2 separate regions of the Homo sapiens genome follow, and region 2 is linked to region 1. A link means that fine-mapping ties the variant in region 1 to the expression of a gene that starts in the linked region. Tissue or cell type: whole blood. Region 1 holds a variant in brackets; the other region holds the start of a gene. All regions are shown on one strand. Distances are from middle to middle.

Region 1 (8,180 bases):
GGATGACACATGAAAGGGACTCTGATGCCCTATGCTGGTGGCTTTGATGTCCAGCCTTGCCCATTGAAAAGCCCTCTCCCTGGCAATATTCTCTGTCTCTCCTCTGTGACTTTCCCTGTGTCCTCCTTGTCATTCTCTCTCTCCCTCCCCCTCCTTTTTTGCCCCTGTCTCCCTCTGACCATCCCCATCTCCATCCACCTTTCTCTGCTCCTCAAGCTCTGTGTAGCTAAGTCATTTTTCCTGAAGTAAAATCTGAGTCATCCTGTGTAAGACAGTTGGGTTCAATGAAGAATGAACCCAAAGGCCACGGGGCTTTGCTAGACCAAGCCTGAAGCTACTCACCCTACTCTCTTTTCTTAGAAAAGACATGAGTCCCCTGGTAGCTGGACGCTTGCAGCTGGTCCTGCCTCCAGAAAAAACAGAAGCCTCTCTGTGATCTGGCAGGGCTCCCCTAGACCCCAGAATATCCCCCAACCCATCTGCCTGGAGCCCAAAATTCTACTATTATTAGTTATCCCATCGGGACCCCCTGACATTGTGCACCAGCGATTTCATATGTGAGTCTCACAGTTTTTCTCTGAAGGGTCCCAATGATCAGAGGTATCAGAGAGTGTTGGAGTGTGGTCTGCCATATTACAAGATTATTTTTAAGATTCAGGTTTTGTCTTAAAAGTTCACATGCGTCTGTTCTCACTCATAAGTGGGAGTTGAACAATGAGAACACATGGACACAGAGAGGGGAACAATACACACTAAGGCCTGTTGGGGGTTGGGGGTTAAGGGGAGGGAAATTAGCGGACCCATCAGTAGGTGCAGCAAACCATCATGGCACATGTATGCCTGTGTGACAAACCTGCATGTTCTGCACATGTATCCCGTTTTTTTTTTTTTAGAAGAAATAAAGAAAATAAAGTTCATATGCATCAATGTATTCCAGTTTATAATATATCCCCCAAGTTCTTCTCAGTGCCCCCTTTCAGGTTACCAAATGTAACCTCTATCCTGCCAGTTCATAATATATCTTTTCAGGCTGGGTGTAGTGGCTCACACCTGTAATCCCAGCACTTTGGGAGGCTGAAGCAGGAGGATTGGTTGAGCTCAGGAGTTCGAGATCAGCCTGGGCAACATAGTGAGAATTTGCCTCTGCAAAAAAATCGTAAAAAGTAACCAAGTGTGTGGTTGTGTGCTCCTGTAGTCCCAGCTACTCTGGAGGCTGAGGCAGGAGGATCGCTTGAGCCTGGGAGTTTAAAGCTGCACTGAGTTATGATTGTATCACTGCACTCCAGCCTGGGCAACAGAGCGAGAGCTTCATATATATATGACATGTAACAAGATTTCTTTTAAGATTCAGGATTTGATCTCTCTCTCTATATAGACCTATATACAGAGAAATCTCTCTCTCTCTCTCTCTCTCTAGAGAGAGAGAGAGAGAGATAATTGATGGCTAAGGAATTGATGGTCATAAAGATGTGACTTGCCCAAGGTTGCTGAGCCTGTGAGTGGTGACCCATGGACTGGGGACTCCTGCCCAGGTCCCATAAGCCCTGTCAGTGGTGGCATTCCCAGATGGACAGAAATTTGCTTGCTGGAGCCTGGGTTGTCTTGTCTGATGAAAAGATTCCTGTTGAGAGTCTTGAGTATATTGAGTTAGGAAGATCCAAGAGGCAGGGGATGGGGTTTAAGCAATACTGACTCCCAGGACTTGGCCATGGAAGGATTGCAGGACTTCAGGCAGCCTGACTGGGGTGGCCAGTAGGCCAGTAGGTGTCTCTTCCAGAGAATCAGGCTCTGAGAGGGATACCATTAGTCCTCTGAGCCAAGTATGACTGTTGGCTTCCCGGATCCCTGATCAGACACTCACCTGGCTCTTCCCTGGGGACAGAGGAGAACAGGGCATGGTCTGGCCCCCTTAGTGTGACTGGGTGAACTTGAGCAGTTCTCTTCCTGTCTCTGAGCCCCAGTCCTCTTTGCAAAATAAGAAACTGGAAGGAATGTCTCCCAAATACCCAAGGGGTGGCTTGCAGCCCCCAGGGCGGCCAGCAGGAGGTGCTGGTGTCCTGATGGGTCACCTTCACAGAAGGGAAGAGCCAGGTCTGTGCAGCCTCGCCGGCCTCTGACTTGAGGCCTCCCTCTCTTGGTAACTCCCAGAGGAGGGCTCCAGCTGTCAGCTCACTGGGATCAAATGAGTCCCTGGCAGATTCTGGAGGTGTAGGAGAACCTGCTTGGGGAGGATCAGACCAAATTCTGCCAAAATTCTGAGGACTGGAGAAGGTGATTTGGGGGACTCCTTTTCAAAACAATAAGTCTGAACCTCGGAGGGTAAGGGGGGTGCTGTAGAGGGGTGCAACCCCTCACCAAGAACTTTATCACCAACCCAGGCTGCATTAACAGAGTATAGTGTCTAGAACATGGAAAGGAACAGGCTGTCTTCCAGCCAGATCGCCTATGGACTTTGGGCTTCAGGAGGAAGGTCCAAGGCAGCAAAGGGAAGGGAGACCCTGTCAGATGAGAAGCACCTACAGCCTCTTAGCTTGTCTTCCCCGCAGCAGAGCAGTCTTAGAGCCATGGCTTTCCAGACTGTGGAGCAGAGAGGTCACATGTGGGGGCACTGGTATCCAGCAACGTTGGGTTGGTGTCTGGCTCTGTTACTTTCATCAGTGACCTTGCATAGCTTACTTCACATCTCTCTGCCTCAGAATCCTACCTACCAGCCGAGCGCGGTGGCTCACGCCTGTAATCCCAGCACTTCGGGAGGTGGAGGTGGGCAGATCACAAGGTCAGGAGATCGAGACCATCCTGGCTAAGACAGTGAAACCCCATCTCTACTAAAAATACAAAAAAAAAAAAAAAGAAAAAAGAAAAGCCGGACATAGTGCCGGGCCCCTGTAGTCCCAGATACTCATGAGGCTGAGGCAGGAGAATGACATGAACCTGGGAGGCAGAGCTTGCTTGCAAGTGAGCTAAGATTGTGCCACTACACTCCAGCCTGGGTGACACAGCCAGACTACATCTCAAAAAAAAAAAAAAAAATCCCACAGAGACATGAGGAAGACTACATGGGATAATGCATTAAAGTACCTAGAACAGCGTCTGGCACGTAGTAGATCCTCACTTCACGTTAGGTGTTATTATGGTTGTTACTATTATTAGCTGAATGGGTGTCATGAGCAGAGGGAGACTGTATGGGTGGGGTATAGGGAAGAGCATACAGACTCTGTGTAAGGACGACCCTTCTCCATATGAAAGCTTTGATGGTAGTGAGCTTCCCACCCTGGAGGTGTTCAGAGGCTGAATGACTCCCCTCCCCAACTCTAAGGGCCACCTTCAGTTCTTAGACTTTTGGGGTCCCTTCTACAACTTTTCTTTAATTGACAGGAAAAAAAGTATGCATTTACCATGTACAGCATGACGTTTTGAAGAATATATACATTGTGGAGTGACTAAATCTGGCTAATTAACATACGGATTATCTCATATAGTTTCTTCGACAACTTTTGCACCTGGAGGAGATTCCCAGGACAGTCTGTCTGTCTGCTGGATTCTATTCCAGAGGAAAGGAAATGGGTGGTCCCAGCCAGTGCCTACAGAGGAAGACTCAAGAACTCCTTCCTGACTCATCTCCCTGCTCACAAACGCCCTCGGAATTCCTCTTTTTGAGCACAAACAGCAGGATAGGGACAGGGATGACGGCAGGAAGAGGCAGCTTAATAAAAAATCCCAATAAAGTTCTGCAGCCCCCGGCGGCCAGGTGCAGGTCCTGGGCATGAGCCTTCCTTAGACCCGCCCACAGGGGGGCCCTGACTAATATTCCTGGAGCCTCTGCCTGCCCCTGGCTTCATTAATGATGCTGAAGAAGGGTCTACGAGGTCCAACGGGGCTCCCCATTGCTGCCTGACGATATTGCTATGCCGCCCACGCCAGCCCCATCCCAGCACACATACCCTCCCTCTTCTAGACCCTCTGCAGAGGAATGGGTTTGATTCAATCAGCCATTTGCCTGTGGGACCGTCTGGTTCAACTTATTGTGGGCAGATGCCAGCGCCAGGGAGTCAAGCAACCCTGGTGCGGAATTTGGAGCAAAGACTTATTAAAGAGCAGCGGAGAGGCTCTGGGATGGGGGCTCTGTACCCCCAGAGCCACCAGACCCAGGGTGGGCTCCAGCTAGGAAAGGCAAGGGTGGGATAGATAGGGACAGGAACCCAGGCAGAGCCCACCAGGAGTGCTCCCCAGCTGGCTAGAGCTCCTCCCCTGGCAGTTCAGGGCTGGCCTCCCTCCACCGGGAGCTCGAGGTGGGACAAGCTCGGGTCTTGTTCCCTCTATGTATTCCCTAATAGAAAGCACAATGCTTTAAGAAGTTTGGGCTGAGAAAAGCTAAGTCTGAGTACTTTGAAGACGGCCAGACAAAGGGCTGGTGGGGACAGCACGGAGTGCCTCGGCCCTCAGCTGCCCACAAAAGGAAGGAAAAAGGAGTGCAGACGTTGCAGTTCGGCTTAAAAAACAAACCCGTGAAACAGAGACAGCCCCCCTACTTCCCCCTCGCTCCAGCATTAGCAGGAGGGGCTGAAAACATTTGTTCAGAGGGAGGGTGGGGGGAAAAACCCTAAGTGCTTCTGCTTCCTTTTTTTTGCCAAATCATGCAGAAGATGCTGGCAGCTGCAAAGATTCAATTATGAACAATGCGAAAAATCATTTACAAAAATAATGGCACTCGAAAAAAAATGGCCTCTCCAGAAATGGCGTGGAACAATAAATCCGTTAATTAGCTAATTAATATTCAATTGGGGTCAGTGGGCTTAATAGAACCTTTCTTGGAGACCCAAGAAATTCTAAACTGCCGCGAGGCGCCTGCCCACTGCCATTATCTCGGGCGAGCAGGCCCTTATCGGGCTGCCAGCTGTCCCCGAACAATGCGGGCCCTTATCAGCTGGGGCAGCAGCCCTGGCCGCTCGCTCCGGCTCCCTCCGCCCAGAGGAGCACGCAGCCTCTC[G/A]GTAATTGATACACGGCGCAGCTTTGTCTGAGGCTGTTTGCTCTGCTGGTATTTAAGGCAGCGCGGGCCCCCTGATTGATTGCCATTGGCCAAGTTTCTGCTGTCAGTGAAGGACCAGCCAATGGCAGCGGTTAACACTCTTGATGGCCCAGTCTTCTGGGCCAGGCCAGAGGCCCAACATGCAGGAACAAGGCCCGCTTCGGTTTGGCGTAAGTTTTGTTGTCCTCCTAAAGTGGGAACCTGAGCCCTCAAAGACTTGGGCGTTTGGGTGGGCCGCTGGTATCCCCTGCCCTGCTTTGCTCTCAGTGCGGTCTTTGTCTCAGGAAAATGGGAGGTTGCATCAGACCCTTGTTACTCTAAGTGTGGTCCATGGACTTGCAGCATCCAGCATCTGCGAGCTTGTTAGAAACACAAATGCTCAGGCCCACTTCAGACCTCCTGAATCTGAGTCTCTGGAAATGGGGTCTAGGAGTCTATGTTTTATTAATTGCCCTAGATGACTCTGATAAGGGCACGCTGAAGTTTGAGATGCAGTTATCGAGATCAGGGTTCCCACCCTTGGCTGTGTCTTAACACAGGCTCCCACCTGGGAGAGGGAGAATTAAATATACAAATTCCTGGGTCCTGCGGTGTAGGGTCATTTTCCCTCAGCCGCACCCTGAGCACAAGGTACTCTGGGAACACTAGAACTGGCCAGCAAAGAGACAGGGATACCGGCTGCCATGGTCGTGCCCATGGGGGTCCTGCCCAGGGTGGAACAAGGTTGCGCATGTCAAACAGTGTAGACAAGTTCTGGCTATACGGGACTTGGGCTCCAGAAATCCACAGGGAGTTAGAATGCATTTTCTATTTTTCTGAATCAGTGTCTTGCTCTGTCACCTAGGCTGGAGTGCAGTGGTGTGATCATAGCTCACTGCAGCCTTAAATTCCTGGGCTCAAGTGATCCTCCCCTTAGCCTCCCAAGTAGCTGGGACTACAGGTGCATGCCACTATGTCTGGCTAATTTAAAAAGAATTTTTTTGTAGAGATGGGGTCTCACTATGTTACCCAGGCTTATTTCAAACCCTGGCCTCAAGTGATCCTCTTGCCTTGGCTTCCCAAAGTGTTGGGATTACAGTTGTGAGCCTTCCAGATGCATGTTTGATAGAAACAACGTTCCACATGGGAGGTGGGCTCCCAGGCTAGCCCCTAGATACCGTGAGACCCATAGCAAAGCTGAGTCTCAGCACATCCCCTTAGCAAATGGAAGGAGAAGGGAGGAGAAGAAAGAAAAGGAAGTTAGGGAAAAAGAAGGTGGAGGGGACTTTATTGTCTTACTAGGGCTCAAATCATGGGGTCAGGTTTTCTGAGTGTTTCTTCGGTCCCCTACATTCTCGTCCTGCCCTGTCTTCTCTCACTTCACTGCACTCTTTATCACTGCACCCTTCCTGGCCTGCCCTCTCAGGTAGAGCTGAGAATCCCGTGGCTCTGCCTTCTCCCAACCCAGCCCCACATGTTCCAGCCGCAAGCCTTTGGGGACCAGCTTGGTCATGCCTCTGCATATGAATGAGCAGGACCGCTTCACTGAGGCAGGAGAGCTTTGGTGGGATCTGGACTTGGAGTTAGCTTAGATGAGGTGGGTAGGGAGAGTCCCCCATCCTGACTGCACCCCACCTTCTCTCAGGTGTTGAATAGGAGCCAGTCAAGCAATAGGAACAAGGAGGCCGTAAGGTAAGGGGCAAACACCAGGCATAATGCACCCAGCCTCAGCGCCCCTCATCCAACACAGTGGAGCTTGGTGAGAGGAATTCAAGAGCCATGCTCTTCCTGGAACAGGGCCAGGTACAGGGAACTCTGGGTATCAGCAGGTGACAGGACCTCAGCCACAGGGGCCATGGGGGGTTAGTGAGGCAAAGTTGGTCCAAGCAACGGATGGCTCTAAGCTTAGGATTATGTTGTCCTCGGCAGATGACTGGGCAGGGCCTTGAACCCCAGAGCAAGTTAGGATGAAGTTATCAGGTCTGGGGTTCCAGGCAAGGACCAGATGGATGTGATTCTGAGTGAGACCAGAGTGAAGGGCTAGAGCTACTGAAGCTCTTCCTGCCTCCTGGGCCACATCCCAAGTTGCCCAGCTAATGTGATCAGTTCCTTCGTCTCCATTGTGAATCAGCAGCAAGGGCCCCATGTGATGTTCCTCCTGGGTCATTTACTTCTCTAGCAACAAGGGGTTTTCAGTGCACCCGCATCTGCATGGGAGGATTACCAGGCACTTCTAGAACTGCCAGGGCCTCAGGGGAAGCTCAGCCAAGTAGATTGACTGGTGCGGACTGTCGGAGTCACCAGCAATCAGCATGGGGAGGAGCAGAGCTGATGCTGCAGTCCCAACCAAATGGCCCTTTCATCTGTGCCCTCCTCGGGGCTCTCAGTGTATCAAAAGGCTGTTGAAGAATATCAAAGGCAAGCAACCATTATCCATCACTCTTCTAGGTTAAATAACTTCCATATTGATGTGTTCACGAGACTCTAATGAGGAAAATAGCCTTCTGTTAAGTAAGCAAACCATTGACCTAAGAACCCATGGGTTAGCCCAGGCCCTCACCTACCACGTGAGCAGTTAGCTTCTAAAGCTGCCCAGACACCAAAAATACGCCCTTCCTCCCCAACCACATATGTTCACGCATGTCACTTTGGCTCTCATGGGGCTCCTTGATCCCTCCCTGAGCAAGTGTGCTCCTTTGGACAACATGGGTTTGGCCCGTCTCACCAAATCCTGGAAACGGAGGCCAAAGGTACTCTTGTCCAGGCTAGAGTCCTGACCCCAACTCTCTGAGGGGTGCATGTGTGATCCCAGATCATGGATATTGCCCTGCACAAGCTGGTGCAAGAGCAAGATACCCTAGTCTTCCTTTCCTAGATCAAATCTGCTCTGGTCATGTTTCAGGAGGCCACTGGGTGCTGGCCCATGCTTGGAGTTGCTTCCACAGCCAGCTATTGGTGGGAGGGAGTGAAAGGCAACAACAGAACGTGGACATGGAGAGAGAGACATTGAGAGACTCAGAGACACACTTAGGAGAGAGGCAGAAAGAGAACTCGAGAGAGCCGGTTGGTTTGTGTGAGAGTGAGGGAGAGCTCTAATCATTGGTTCAATTATCTGAGACTCTACTTTGACAACCATAGAGACTTCCTGTGCCTATGACAACAATTGCCAGGATGG
Region 2 (8,180 bases), 39 kb after region 1:
AAACTAGGCTGTTGCCTCTGGGTTCTGTTTCCCTTGCAGATCTCCCAAAGTAAGAGCTATTTTTCTTCCCACAGCTTAAAGCCTGGGAATAGAATAGATGCCCAACTTGTTTCCCCTTGCTGCTTCCAAATTGCTTCTTCCTCTTCTTCCTTTAAAAACCATAGCTCCTGGCCAGGCGCTGTGGCTCATGCCTGTAATCCCAGCACTTTGGGAGGCTGAGGTGGGTGCATAACAAGGATCGAGACCATCCTGGCTAACATAGTGAAACCCCATCTCTACTAAAAATACAACAAAAAAATTAGCCGGGCGTGGTGGCGGGCACCTGTGGTCCCTGCTACTTGGGAGGCTGAGGCAGGAGAATGGCGTGAAGCCAGGAGGCGGAGCTTGTAGTGAGCCGAGATTGCACCACTGCACTCCAGCCTGGGCAACAGAGCAAGACTCCATCTCAAAAATAAATAAATAAATAAATAAATAAATAAAAATTTTTAAACAATTAAAAAAAAACACAGCTCCTTAGAAGAGCATGTCATCTGGCTGCCCATTACTTCTTCTGTTCCTGTCACCTTCCAACCTTGTAGTAACTCCACATTCATTAAAGATTTTAACACTTGGATCACTATTTCCCACCTCATTTCTGTCCTCATACATGGGAACTTCAACATAATGTTGTGACCTAGGTTTCCATTGTGGCTTCTTACAACTTCACATGAGCACTCTCACTAATGCCATCTTCTCCTAGACTTCATTTACTATAGATGGGCTGATGATTTCCTATTGTTTCTAGCCCAAACATCTCTTCTGAGCTCCAGGCCCATATATCCAACTGGATATTTCTACTTGGATATTTCATGGAACTTCAAATTCAGCTAGTCAAAATCTGAACTCTTCATCTTTCTCACAAACCTGATTCTTCTATTCTTAAAATCATGTTATATAGAATTAATGTCTACCATTTACCCAAGCTAGAATTTGGTGGCGGAGGGCGGGGGGGAGTGTGGTCATTCCAGACCCCTCTGTATTTCTTAGAGACCACATCCCATTAGTCACCTCCTCCCTAAGCTGCATCTATAGTCCAGGAGTCCAGAGGTTTTCTGACTAAACCTCCCCAGACAGTAAACCTGGTAGCTAAGAGGGCAAATTCTTGAGTAAGCATGCCTGTGTTCAAATCATAGCATCCAGTTTATACTGTGTAATTGTTGGCAAGTAAATTATGTTTTCTGGGGCTCCATTTTCTTACCTGTGAAATGGGTATATAATAATATTGCTTACCTCTTGAAGTTATTGGGAGGAATAATTATGATATGTAAGATGCCTAAAACATAATTAGTACTCTAACTTTTAGTGATGTTAATAACATCAATGATAATAATGCCCGAGTGAAGCCAGCAGTGGCACCCATCTGGCTGCATGAATCAAGGAAAGAGATTCAGAAGATATCCATTGCTTTAAAAAAATCAAACAATTTTTTTTTAGAGACAGGGTCTCACTCTGTCACCCTGGCTGGAGTGGGTGCCCCTACTGGCTTCATTCAGGCATTATTATCATCTTATATATCATAATTAATTGTGGTTTCACACAATCATAGCTCACTGCAGCCTCAAACTCTTGGGCTCAAGTGATCTTCCCACCTCAGCTTCCTGAGTAGTTGGGACTACAGGTGCACACCACCATGCCTGGTTAATTTTTTACATTTTTTTGGTAGAGATTAGGGCTCTCCCTATGTTGCCCAGGCTGGCCTTGAACTCTTGGCCTCAAGCCATCCTCCAGCCTTGGCCTCCCAAAGCCCTGGGATTATAGGTGTGAGCCACTGTGCCCAGTCTCAACTGCTTTTTAATCAGATTTCCAGCCAATCCTTCATTCAGACCCACTCTGCACCCTTGGCTTTAAAGGAACCCAGTACCTCCAATTCTTAAGAGCATGGGTTCTGAGGGGCAAATTAGTTCACTCCTTACAGGCTTTCAGTCCACAGGCATTTAACTTTTTATGCTCTACACCTGCACTGTCTACTGTGGGCGCCAACGAGCCACACTATCGTGCTGATAAAATTTGAAATATTTTTGCTATCTTGGTTTAAAATATTATTAAAATAAATTTTACTTATTTTTACTTTTTAAATGTGGCTACTGGAAAAATTTAAATTACATATGTGGCTGGTATTATGTGTCTATTGGACAGTGTTGTGTGCGTCTTACAAAATTGACATTTCTCATCTGCTGTCATGTTTTCTATCATTGCATTTAGTCTTGTAGTTTATATACTTTATTTCTTTATTTTCCTTTTTGGGCACTGTCCCAGGAAAGCAAAGATAAATGCATATGTTACATCTGTCATGTTTAACTGGAAGTTCTACCTAAGCTTTTCACAATGTAGCTCCTGCTTATATTTGTGCACTTCGTGTCCTGTCACTACTCTATGGCCCTGCCAAAATGAATTACCAATAGCTTTCTGAACACACCAGGAAGCTTCCAGATTTGCCTTTATTTTTTTGGCCTCCTTTTTCCGGAATACCTTTCTAACCCCTCCCACCTGTCTGCCTATAAGTTACTCATTTTTCAACAGCTAACTCAATTTCACCTTCTCAAAGGGGCTTTTCTTGACTTTTCCTCGTACCAGTTGAGAAGACTGCTCGGGGATCCAGAATATTTCCTGCATTTTTTTTGTTTGGATAATTATCTGTCCTACAAAGGGAATCCATTTTATTCATCAGACCCTGTAGTGCCAAGTTGAGGGTCTAATACATAGTAAAAACTAAAATAATGTTAAATGAACGAATGAAGAGAGTAACAAAGAACGGTGGGATTGTAGAGAAAGGAGAGGCTGACTGAAAACGTTTCGAGAGAGCAGTGTTTTTAAGCTGTTCTTCAGAGAAGTTTTTGACAACTGGAGATGGTGTCAGGAATTTTCCAGGCAGTGGGAACAGGACAAGCAAAGCTTCCCTGAAGACAAGCAATATGCTAAAGAAATAGCAAATCATCCAGTTTGGAAGGAGCATTGGTAAGACCAGATCATGCAGGGCGTTGAGGTTATAGAAAGGAGTTTAACTATTGTTCTGAAGATAATGGAGAGTTAAAAGGTTTAAGCTGGAGAGAAAGAGAATTAGTCTTGTGTTTTAGCATTATCACCTGTGGCTGCAGACGGATAATGAATGCGAGGGGCATGAGTGGAAGCTGGAAGACAGCGAGATCATGGAGATGAGGAGAAACTGGATGTTGTGATCTACGGGTGGGTGGGGGGCAGTGGTGGTAAGTGGGGATAGAGATCCGGGCACGACCGCCGGATGTGTAGGCGGTAGAATGCACAGGACTCAGTAAAAGATGAACATGGGGAGTGAGGGAGGAGTTTTTAGTTAGTATGAACGGGAAGGCGAGGGTACCATTTACAGCGACGGGTAACCACGCGGGAGGAGCAGGTCAACTCCCGACAGTGGAGGTGAAGATGCGTGCGCCTCGCGCACCTTGTCCCTCGCGCGACGCCGTCCGCGCCGCCCGCGGTTCGGTCGGGAGCGGCAGCCCGTGCTCCGGTTCCGGTTCCGGTTCCGGCTGGCGTCTGCACCTGCGACCACCGTGAGCAGTCATGGCGTACTCCACAGTGCAGAGAGTCGCTCTGGCTTCTGGGCTTGTCCTGGCTCTGTCGCTGCTGCTGCCCAAGGCCTTCCTGTCCCGCGGGAAGCGGCAGGAGCCGCCGCCGACACCTGAAGGTAAGAGCAGGCCAGCTCCCTCTGAGCTTCCCGGCGCCGAAGAGTACGGAGAACGCTGCTTGAGGGAGGGGTGACTCTGAGAGTCTGCAGCCTTCACCGAAATATCCACCAAACTGACTGGAGAGGGCGGGCGAGACGGCGTTGAAGGGCCAATGCCCACGGTTCCGTTGTTATCAGCGGGTGGCGGCCCAGATGGTTCTGCTGCTGGAAGGGTCAGGAACGTATGCATGCAGGTCTGTGCATCCTCTAGGTGGCCTTGCGTACTCCCGTTTAGGCGCAGTCCCTTCTCTCTTACCCCGCTGGCTTAACTCATCTCGTCACCATTTGTTCACGTGCTTTGAGTCAAGGGTTCCCAGTTGGGTTTCCCTCTTTAGGTTTTCCGTGTACTTTCTGACGCGCCGCTTGGTACGAAATCAAGGCAAATGGAATTGGTACAGCAAACCTTAAGTCGTTATGTTTTTTCAACTTGGTGCTGGGCGCTCACTGCTTCAGGCTCTTCTTGTGCCTTTAAAAATATATCTTGAAGATTTTAATAACCCCAGTTTCAGTTACTGAGGTGGTTATGAACAAATTATTACGTTCCCCTTATTGAAACAGTATTTATCTGTTAATTCTTCGTTGTTGGCATGATGTATGTGGTGTTTAAAAATTCATCCTCTTAGCTGCACTGGGGCCTTTTACAGAATGAGTGTAAAGGCACGGTGCTGAAGGCTGGGAGAAGGAACCAGAACAGTTTTCTATAGGTCATGAAGTTCTACTGGTAACTTTCTCCTGTAAATTATCCTTGTAATATCTTTGAGACATGATTTTACGGTGTCTGAACACTTCCAGTAATGTTTAAACTGTTGATTGCTGGACAGCTCCTTTTGAACTGTAATCCACTTCCGTCTGCTTTATGCACATTGACTGTAGTTCCATTCTCTTGAGCATCATACACACTATAAATGCAAAGCACCAAGCTTTAGGGGTGGAGGGCAGGTTGAACACATAATTCTGTTTACAGAATTTGCCTGATAATCTTTATGCTTGTAAGACTATCCACTTGGGACGGACTTCTAAAACATCTTTGCGTATTTGTTCTTTTTTTTTCCTTTCTGTCTTATTGCAATAATCCCAAAGATTTTTACCTGCTTTGTCTAATGATATTGTCTACTTTGAAGAAGAGTCAATTCATGATGATCCTGAACAGTGAAGATTCTTCGAAAACTTTTTTTTTTTTTTTTTTACTTTCCATTATGGTGAATTATCTTGAACAAGTACTATTGACTGTGAGTGGGAGACACTCTTCTGAACGTTGTAGAAAATGTAGAGTGGAGATTAGACATGGGTTGTTCCCTTGAGAACTCAAGTGTTGGTATTCAGTGTTCTCATGTTAGGATCTTTGTACCTTCAGTTCTCTTTATTCCTGAAGTGCTGTGCTTTTCCCTCAGTGCCCTTCTCATCATTCAAATTTCTGCTCAAATGAAACCTCCTCAGAGAGACTTCCCCTGATGACACTAACTAAAATAACTCTTTTCTCCCATCATTCTCTATTTTATCATGTTTTATATTCTTCATGATAGGCATCACTATATGATATGGAATATTCTTAAGTGTTTACTTGTTTGTTTTTTTGTCTTCACCTTCTAGAATGTAAGTTTGCAAGGGTAGGGACTTTGTCTTGTTTACCACTGTTTCTTCAGTACCTGGCATATAATGGGCAGTCAATAAATACTTTAAGATTATTAAGCTACCAATACTGTAAATTCTGTTTTTGACAAGGAGAAGCTACTGAAGTAGTATAACCTAGGAAAAAACTTACCTTGAATGGTACATTCCAGTAACTGAAACTTGCAGCAAAAAATCTTAACCATTTTGGGGTTACATACACCATTGAGAATCTTATAAAAGCTATGTATTTTCTTTCTTTCTCTCTCCTTCCTCCCTCTGTCCCTCCCTCCCTCCTTTCCTCTCTTCCTGGCCCCCTTTCCCTTTCTCTTTCCCTTTCCCTGGGTCTCACTCTGTCACCCAGGCTGGAGTGCAGAGTCATGATCACAGCTCACTGCAGCCTCTACTTCTAGGGCTCAACTGATCCTCCCACCTCAGCCTCCCAAGTAACTGGGACTACAGGCACATGCCACCATGCCTGGCTAATTAAAAAAAATTTTTTTTGTTTTTGGTTGAGATGGGGGTCTCATTGTATTGTCCAGGCTGGTGTCGAACTCGTGGGTTCAAGTGATCCTTCTGCCTCAGCCTTCCAAAGTGCTGGGATTACAGGCTTGAGCAACTGCACTCAGCCTAAAACTGTATGTTCTCTCTAGAAAAAGGTACATACTCTTATTGTACTCAGAATTTCAGTATCAATTCAGAGAATTCTCAGAACCCAGAAATCCCTGCTTTGAAGAAAGGAATAACCCTGAGTATTTGAAAATTCTTAAAAATACATGTTGTTATGTCTTCCATTTTTGCCCATTGATGTGCATGAAACAAGCACAGTTCCCTTTCCACATGAAAGCCTTTAAGATAGTCTTTTAACAAATATTTATGATGTACCATATCACATACTGTGCACATAGTGTATAGACACTATGTATTCCAAGAAAAAATGAGCGAACTCCATGCTTTGAGGCGGCCACAGTTTAGTAAAGGAAAGTAGACATGTCAACAGATAAATGCAAAACAGACATGTTAGCAGATAAATGCAAGAGTGTCAGTCACAGTTACTCAAGTCTGCGCAGGGAACAATGGAGACATGTATGCAATGGTCAGTGTTATTGGGACTTAAGAAGGGTTTCATAAACCAGGTGTGACAGCTCATGCCTGTAATCCCAGCATTTTGAAAGGCTGTGGTGGAAGGATTGCTTGAGCCTGGGAGTTCGAGACCAGCTTGGGCCACATAACAAGACCCCCATCTCTACAAAATAAGTTTGTTTTTTTTCAATTAGCTGGGCATGGTGGTGTGCACCTGTAGCCCCAGCTACTCTGTAGGCTGAGGTGGGAGGATCGTTTGAAGTTTGGAGGTCAAGGCTACAGTGAGGTGTGATTGTGTAACTGCACTGCAGCCTGGGCAACACAGTGAGACTCTGCCAAAAAAAAAAACAAAACAAAACAAAAAAAAAACCCCAAAAAACAGGTTTCATAGAACATAGAGGAGGGAAGTCTTTTTTTTTTTTGATAACAGCTTTCTTGAGATCTAATTTATATATCATACAATTCACCCACTTAAAGTGTACAATTTATTGGGTTTCAGCATATTCAGAGTTGTACAACCATCACTACAACCAATTTTAGAATATTTCTTCAGCCCCCAAAGAAACCCTGTACTTTTTAGCTATTACTCCACAAATCCCCCAGCCCACCTCCAGCCCTAGGCAACCACTCATCTACTTTATGTCTCTATAGATTTGCCTGTTCTGGACATTTGGTATAAATGAAATCATATAATATCTGATCTTTTGTGACTGACGTCTTTTAACTAGCATAATGTTTTCAAGGTTCATCCATGTTGTAGCATGTAGCAGTACTTTTTTTATGGCTGAATAATATTTCATTGTGTGGATATACCACATTTCATTTATTCATTAATCAATTGATGGACATTGAATTTTTGCCTTTTAGCTATTATGAATAATGTTGCTACTGATATCTGTGTACAAATTTTTGTGTAGACTTAATGTTTTCATTTCTCTTGAGTGTATACATTTGGAAAATGTGAGCATTCCAGTGTGGCTGGAACTAAGCGTGGAATTTCTAGGTTGTATGGTTATTACATGTTTAACCTTTTGAGGAACTGCCAGACCATTTTCCAAAGCAGCTGTACCATTTTACATGACCACCAGCAGTGTAAGAGGGCTTCTGGTTTCTTGTCAATACTTGTTTGTTATCTGTCTTCTTGATGATAGCCATCCTAGTAGGAATGAAATGGTATCTCATTGTGATTTTATTTGCATTTCCCTGATGACTAATGACATTGAGCATTTTTTGTGTGTTTATTCACTCTTTGTCTATTTGTATATCTTGTTTTGGAGAAATGTCTATTCAGGTCCTTTTAACCCTCTTTAAAAGTCAGATTACTTGTCTTTTTTTTTTTTTTTTTTTTTTTTTTGAGAGAGACAGGGTCTCACTCTGGTGCACAGGCTGGAATACAGTGGTGCCATCATTGCTCACTGTAGCCCCAAACTCCTGGGCTCAAGTGATTCTCCCACCTTACCCTCCCAGGTAACTAGGACTACAGGTGTGTGCCACCATAGCTGGCTAATTTTTAAATTTTTTGGCAGAAATGAGGCTCTCACTATATTTCCCAGGCTGGTCTTGAACTTCTGGCCTCAAGTGATCCTCCCACCTTGGCCTCCTGAAGCACTGGTATTACAGGTGTAAGCCACCACACTTGGCGTCTTGTCTTTATTGTTGAGTTGTAAGAGTTCTTTGTATATTCTAGGTACAAATCTATTATCAGATATATGATTTGCAAATATTTTCTTCCATTCAGTGGTTGCCTTCACGT

What was found. PIP is the estimated chance that this variant, and not a neighbour inherited with it, causes the effect.
Region 2: RIC3 starts here. The variant in region 1 is fine-mapped to the expression of RIC3 in whole blood (TOPMed, PIP above 0.99). The same link has a PIP of 0.9 or more in aorta, esophagus mucosa, lung, skeletal muscle, spinal cord and tibial nerve.

Annotation. Positions count from the first base shown.
Region 1 is chr11:8,203,259-8,211,438 of GRCh38, reverse strand. No RefSeq gene overlaps it. Among named protein-coding and RNA genes, the nearest start is that of RIC3-DT, 38 kb to the right of the region's middle. RefSeq lists an enhancer at 2,303-6,940. The variant G/A (reference allele first, on the strand shown) is at 4,988.
Region 2 is chr11:8,164,383-8,172,562 of GRCh38, reverse strand. It overlaps RIC3 (RIC3 acetylcholine receptor chaperone), which reads left to right and starts at 3,538. Exons shown (of 6, transcript NM_001206671.4): 1 at 3,538-3,697. The coding sequence starts at 3,574. It overlaps RIC3-DT (RIC3 divergent transcript), which reads right to left and starts at 3,493. Exons shown (of 5, transcript NR_187234.1): 1 at 3,374-3,493; 2 at 2,575-2,678.